Regions from separate parts of the Homo sapiens genome. Here region 1 is linked to region 2. Evidence: fine-mapped expression QTL. A gene starts in region 2. The other region holds a variant in brackets. All regions are shown on one strand. Distances are between the middles of the regions. Region 1 has its middle 1.7 kb from the start of IL4I1. Region 2 holds the start of ATF5 (activating transcription factor 5).

What was found. PIP is the estimated chance that this variant, and not a neighbour inherited with it, causes the effect.
Region 1: its variant is fine-mapped to the expression of ATF5 in whole blood (INTERVAL, PIP 0.96).

The regions. Positions count from the first base shown.
Region 1 is chr19:49,897,183-49,899,910 of GRCh38, forward strand. It overlaps a transcript of IL4I1 not described here. Among named protein-coding and RNA genes, the nearest start is that of IL4I1, 1.7 kb to the left of the region's middle. RefSeq lists an enhancer at 635-814. The variant C/T (reference allele first, on the strand shown) is at 1,222.
Region 2 is chr19:49,928,058-49,931,023 of GRCh38, forward strand. ATF5 (activating transcription factor 5) reads left to right here and starts at 1,148. Exons shown (of 3, transcript NM_001193646.2): 1 at 1,148-1,343; 2 at 2,675-2,966. The coding sequence starts at 2,794. It overlaps NUP62 (nucleoporin 62), which reads right to left and starts at 1,447. Exons shown (of 3, transcript NM_016553.5): 1 at 1,269-1,447. It also overlaps a transcript of IL4I1 not described here. RefSeq lists silencers at 978-1,037, 1,888-1,937.

The DNA.
Region 1 (2,728 bases), 31 kb before region 2:
GTTTCTATCCTCCCCTGCACTCTCTCTGCCTCCTTGATTCCCACGGGGACAGAGGGGCTACAGGTCCCTGGGCCAGGCCAACTTTCCCCTCCAAGTCCCTCTCCGTCAGGTGTCGCCATGTCCTGCAGGGCCCCCCATGGTTCCACTTCCCTCTCCACTTGCCACCCAGAGCCTCAGTCTCCCCCTCCGTTACATGGGTGTAGCAGTGGGGCTGGCAGCCGTGGTCCCGGGGTCAGGACGTGGGCTCTGAGCCCGCCCTCCCCTCTGTGGCTCTCGTCTACAGCTGTCAAATGACGTCTACAGACGTCACAGTGTTTTAGGATCAAGTGAGTGAATCCAGGTTAAGTTCTGTGGCCGGAACCTGGGGTAGTACTGGAAGCTGCTCCTTTGGAAATGCCAGCTGCTGTGGCCGCAGGGGCACTCAGGGGTTCTATGAGTGACCACCCGGCAGAGGGAAGCGCCCAGGCTTCACCCATCCCTGCTTTAAGAACCACCTCAGTGCTCAGGGCAGGGAGTGGGGCGGCACCTTGGAGTGGGTGGGGGTGGAGAAACAATAGCAGGGACTTTCCTTGGGGTGGGGGAGAGGGAGCCAGGGGCTCCGTGAGGAGGAAAACCAGAGGGAGGCAGATTCTCTGCAGCAAGGGTTGGGTGGGGGTTGGAGGGCATTAACAAGAAGGAAGATGGGAAACTCCCGCAGTAAATCAAAGAGGGATGCGGTTATGGCCGGGAGGGGCTGGGGGGTGAATGTGAGTAACAAGGCATGTGACGCAGGGGCGGGAGGCCGTGGCAAAGGGAAATGATCAAAGAGCTGGAGAGTTCAGGGACCGAAAGAGCTTGGGTCAGCAAAAATAGTGACGAGGGCCAGGGGTGGCTCACGCCTATAATCCCAGCACTTTGGGAGGTCGAGGCAGGCGGATCACCTGATGTCAGGAGTTCAAGACCAGCCTGGCCAACATGGCAAAACCTCGTCTCTACTAAAAATATAAAAATTAGCCGGGCATGGTGGCATACGCCTGTAGTCCCAACTACTCAGGAGGCTGGGACAGGAGAATTGCTTGAACCCAAGAGGTGGAGGTTGCAGTGAGCTGAGATCGTGCCACTGCACTCTAGCCTGGGTGACAGAGCCAGACTCCATCTCAAAAAATAAAAAATAAAAATAAAAAATAGTAATGAGGGCCGGGTGCGGAGGCTCACTGCTGTAATCCTAGCACTTTGGGAGGC[C/T]GAGGTGGGAGGATTGCTTGAGCCCAGGGGCTCGAGACCAGCCTGGCCAAGATGGCGAAACCCTTTCTCTAAAAAAGAAAAAAATAGTGACAAAAATGTTCCCATGGCGATCACCTGCCTTGGAGGCCGCCTGGTGCTCAGGGCTTTGCACCCATCGTAAGCCTCACAATGCCTGCATTTGAGGCCAGGCACAGTGGCTTACGCCTGTAATCCCAGCACTTTGGGAGGCTGAGGTGGGCGGATCACTTGAGGTCAGGAGTTCAAGACCAACCTGGCCAAAATGATGAAACCCTGTCTCTACCAAAAATATAAAAAATTAGCCAGGCGTGGTGGTGCACACCTGTAATCCCAACTACTCGGGACACTGAGGCAGGAGAATCGCTTGAACCCGGGAGGCAGAGGTTGCAGTGAGCCGAGATTGCACCGCTGCACTCCAGCCTGGGGGACAGAGTGAGACTCCGTCTCAAAAACAAACAAACAAACAAACAAAAAACCAACAACAATGCCTGCATTTGATAGTTGAGGAAACTGAGGCTTGGAGATGGCGAGAGGGTGGGACAGGAGGACCCTGGGGCACAGAGAGGGGAAAAGGCTTGGCCTAGGTCTCAGAGTTTCATTCACAGCGACATGTCAAGTATGAACGCGGCGGGATTGGGGCCTTATTCGCCTGTGCCTCGACCTGGGTCCCACAGTGGGGAATGGCAGTGCTGGCATTCCTCACCAGGTCGGGTGGGCCCCAGGTCCCCGGCCCCTGCCCAATAGCTTGTTCAGTCCTACAGCCGCATAACAGTGGAAACAACCATGGAAAGGTGTGGAGGCCCACAGCCAACTGGCTCCCAGGGCATGTCCCAGGAGTTTTTGGGTCCCCAGAGTGGGTGGGGCCCTGCACCAATCCCCTTGTCCTTATCACAGAGGGTTGTTGCACAAAACTCCTCTGGCCCCAGGCATATGTGCAGCTCACCTTGGGGGACTTCTGGGTGGTTGTTGTTGTTGTTTTGAGAGATGGGGTCTTGCTGTGTCACTCAGGCTAGAGCACAGTGGCACAATCTCGGCTCACTGCAGCCTCAACCTCCCGGGCTCAAGCAATCCTCCCACCTCAGCCTCCCTAGTAGCTGGGACTACAGGAGTGCACTACCACACCTGTTTTTTGTTTTTTTTGTTTTTTTTAATTGAGACGGAGTCTCACTCTGTCACCCAGGCTGGAGTGTAGTGGCGCTATCTTGGCTCACTGCAAGCTCCACCTCCTGGGTTCACGCCATTCTCCTGCCTCAGCCTCCAGAGTAGCTGGGACTACAGGCACCTGCCACCACGTCCGGCTAATTTTTGTATTTTTAGTAGAGATGAGATTTCACCGTGTTAGCCAGGATGGTCTCAATCTCCTGACTTTGTGATCTGCCCGCCTCGGCCTCCCAAAGTCCTGGGATTACAGGCGTGAGCCACCTCGCCCGGCCACACCTGGCTAATTTCTGTGCTGTTTGTAGAGATGGGATTTTGTTATGCTGCCCAG
Region 2 (2,966 bases):
CCTGGGCACCCATCATTTGGAATGGAAGATGAGGATAGCTGGAAACAGACACTTTAGAGGGATGAGGGAGACAGAAGAATGACAGCAGGTGTTGGACAGTCCAACGTCTGCGGCTCTTACAAGTGGTAAGGAAGAAATGAGACTGGGCCCCAGAGTTCCTATTAATAAAATATGCTGAGGCCGGGAGCGATGGCTCACGCCTGTAATCCCAGCACTTTGGGAGGCCGAGGCGGGCGGATCACGAGGCCAGGAAATTGAGACCATCCTGGCTAACACAGTGAAACCCCGTCTCTACTAAAAATACAAAAAATTAGCCGGGCGTGGTGGCGGGCGCCTGTAGTCCCAGCTACTCGGGAGGCTGAGGCAGGAGAATGGCGTGAACCTGGGAGGCGGAGTTTGCAGTGAGCCGAGATCGCGCCACTGCACTCCAGCCTGGGCGACAGAGACGGAGAGACTCCGTCTCAAAAAAAAAAAACAGTTGAACAGGAATGTATGAGTTGAGCTCTGTGCATAAGGCTTGCCAGACATCGTCTTATTTGAGTCTCATAAACCCACCAGGCGAGTTGATTTTTCTTATTTTACAGATAGGGAAATGAAGTAAGAGAACTTAAGTTATTTGCCCGAGGCCATCCTGGCAGGTCTGTATTTGGGAGAGTGCTGTGACTCATGCTGGACTCTAACCCACGAGGGTTTCTCAGAGTCAGCAGCTGGGGGATGAAGAAGTGAAAAGTGACTGGCAGGAAATTCTGCAAGCAAGGAAAGGGAAAGAGAAATGAACTGGTGCAGGTCTGCGGGAAGAGAATGAGGCTGGATCCTCAAAATCACAGGAGGAAGCAGGCCCAGACCTCAGAGGCAGAAAGAGAAAGAAACCAGAGCTTAGAGTCAGGAGGAGGAAACCAGACCCCGGAGCCACAAGGAGAGGGCTGGATCCCCGGCTCAGAGGGAAGAGGTCGGATCCCCAGCTGAGAGGGAGGAGGGTCCCGGACCCTAGGAGTGGGAAGGAAAGGCTCGGATCCCCTGATCCCCAGGAGGAGGGGACCCGGCTGCCTCCCGGTTGGGGCCGCGCGAGGGCGGGGCGCGGAAGGATCCGGGAGGGCCGTGCTCCGCCACCCAGTATATATCTGTCCCCAGTCCCCGGGGCCGCCTCATTCCCTGTCCTCGGATCACAGTCTCTTCTCACTACAGTGTCGCCGCCTCTGCCTGCGTAGCCCCGGCCATGGCTCTGTAGCCTCGACCCCTTTGTGCCCCCGGCCCGTCTCCGCGCTCACCACGCCTGCGCTCTCCGCTCCCACCTTCTTTCTTCAGCCGAGGCCGCCGCCGCCTCTCCTTGCTGCAGCCATGGAGTGAGTAACCGCTTACCTCTTCTCCAACTGCCTTTCCCGCCCTTTCGCAGCTCGTGGCCCTCTTTAGGGAGCCCTGGGGGGTGGGGAGTCGCGAGCGGGGAATCACGGTCGCGCAGGCGCAGAAGTAGTACGGTGGGCCGAAGGCGCGCGGCTGCGCATGCGCACTGGGCCCGGGGCCGGGTGGGAGAGTTCTAGACTCGATGTTTGTCAGCCCGCGTGCAGCTGGGCCTGAGCACTCCAGGGGAGGGTGTGTTTTTTTTTTTTCTAAACGATTCTTCGTGCTTGGTTGTTCCTGCGCAGTAGCCCACCAGTGCCCCGTAGTGAAAGAGCTGCGGACCCTGAATGGCCGCACATGCGCATTGATCCCCAAGAGGGCGGAGGTGTAAAGGCAATTGGACCGCTCGGGCGACGTAGCATGCGCCTTGGCCCTCGGCGCAGAGCCGCGTGTGGACGGGTGGCGTTCGGGTAGCCGTTCTCCGCGTGCCCCCTCTACCCTCCTCCACCCTCCCTGCCCCACGTTGCTCTGGCTCACAGCCCAGCTTCCTTCCTTTTAAACCAGGCACCTGCTGAGGCGGGGACTGGCTTAGATTGACAGGGCAGAAGGCGGGACCCAGAGGCAACCCTCTAAGTGGGTGGGGATAGAACCACTGTCGTCACGATGGGTGGGATTTCGGAAGCACATTGTGAGAAGGGGCGGGGCTAAACCAACCGTTAGTTGAGGGGTGGGGTTTCGATGTGACAAAGAGGCGGGGCCTCTGGGGAATCGGGGGAGGGGCGGAGCTAAATAAACAATGAGGGGCGGGGCTTGGAGGGGCAGCGGCAGAGCGAGGAGTGGGATTTGAGTGGATAACATTGCTGAAGGGCTGCGGCCTGGGGCAGTTCCCCTGGGAACTGGTTTGGGATGGAAGCTAGGAAGGCAGTGGGGCCAAAAGGAAATATTTTAGAGGAAGGGGCGTGGCTGGAAGAAAATGTCCCTGGGATTGAGTTTTTCCTTGAGGCGAAATATTCTGAGGTGGATGGGAGGGGCCTAAGGTAATTCCCCTGGGAGACCTTTAGGTTTTTTTTTTCTGTATTGGGGGAAGGGGTGGGGCATCGGTCCTACTTTAGGACCTAAAGAAATTCCCTTGGGAGTGGGTGGGGCTCAGAGATTTGGGTAAAGAAAGGGCAAATTTAGAATTCGGAGAGGCTGAGGCTTAGTGTTCTAAACGGTGGTTGGAAGGGGGAGGGAGGAGCCTCATGGACGTGCCTGGGGGTGTGGCTTGGCTTCCCCTTGATTTTGGCCGGTGGATGACGCTGTCCTGACCACACCCACTCTTGTCTCACGCGTGTAGGTCTTCCACTTTCGCCTTGGTGCCTGTCTTCGCCCACCTGAGCATCCTCCAGAGCCTCGTGCCAGCTGCTGGTGCAGCCTCTCCTGTTGCCATCAGTGCCCAGCACCTGTGCTACAGCCATGTCACTCCTGGCGACCCTGGGGCTGGAGCTGGACAGGGCCCTGCTCCCAGCTAGTGGGCTGGGATGGCTCGTAGACTATGGGAAACTCCCCCCGGCCCCTGCCCCCCTGGCTCCCTATGAGGTCCTTGGGGGAGCCCTGGAGGGCGGGCTTCCAGTGGGGGGAGAGCCCCT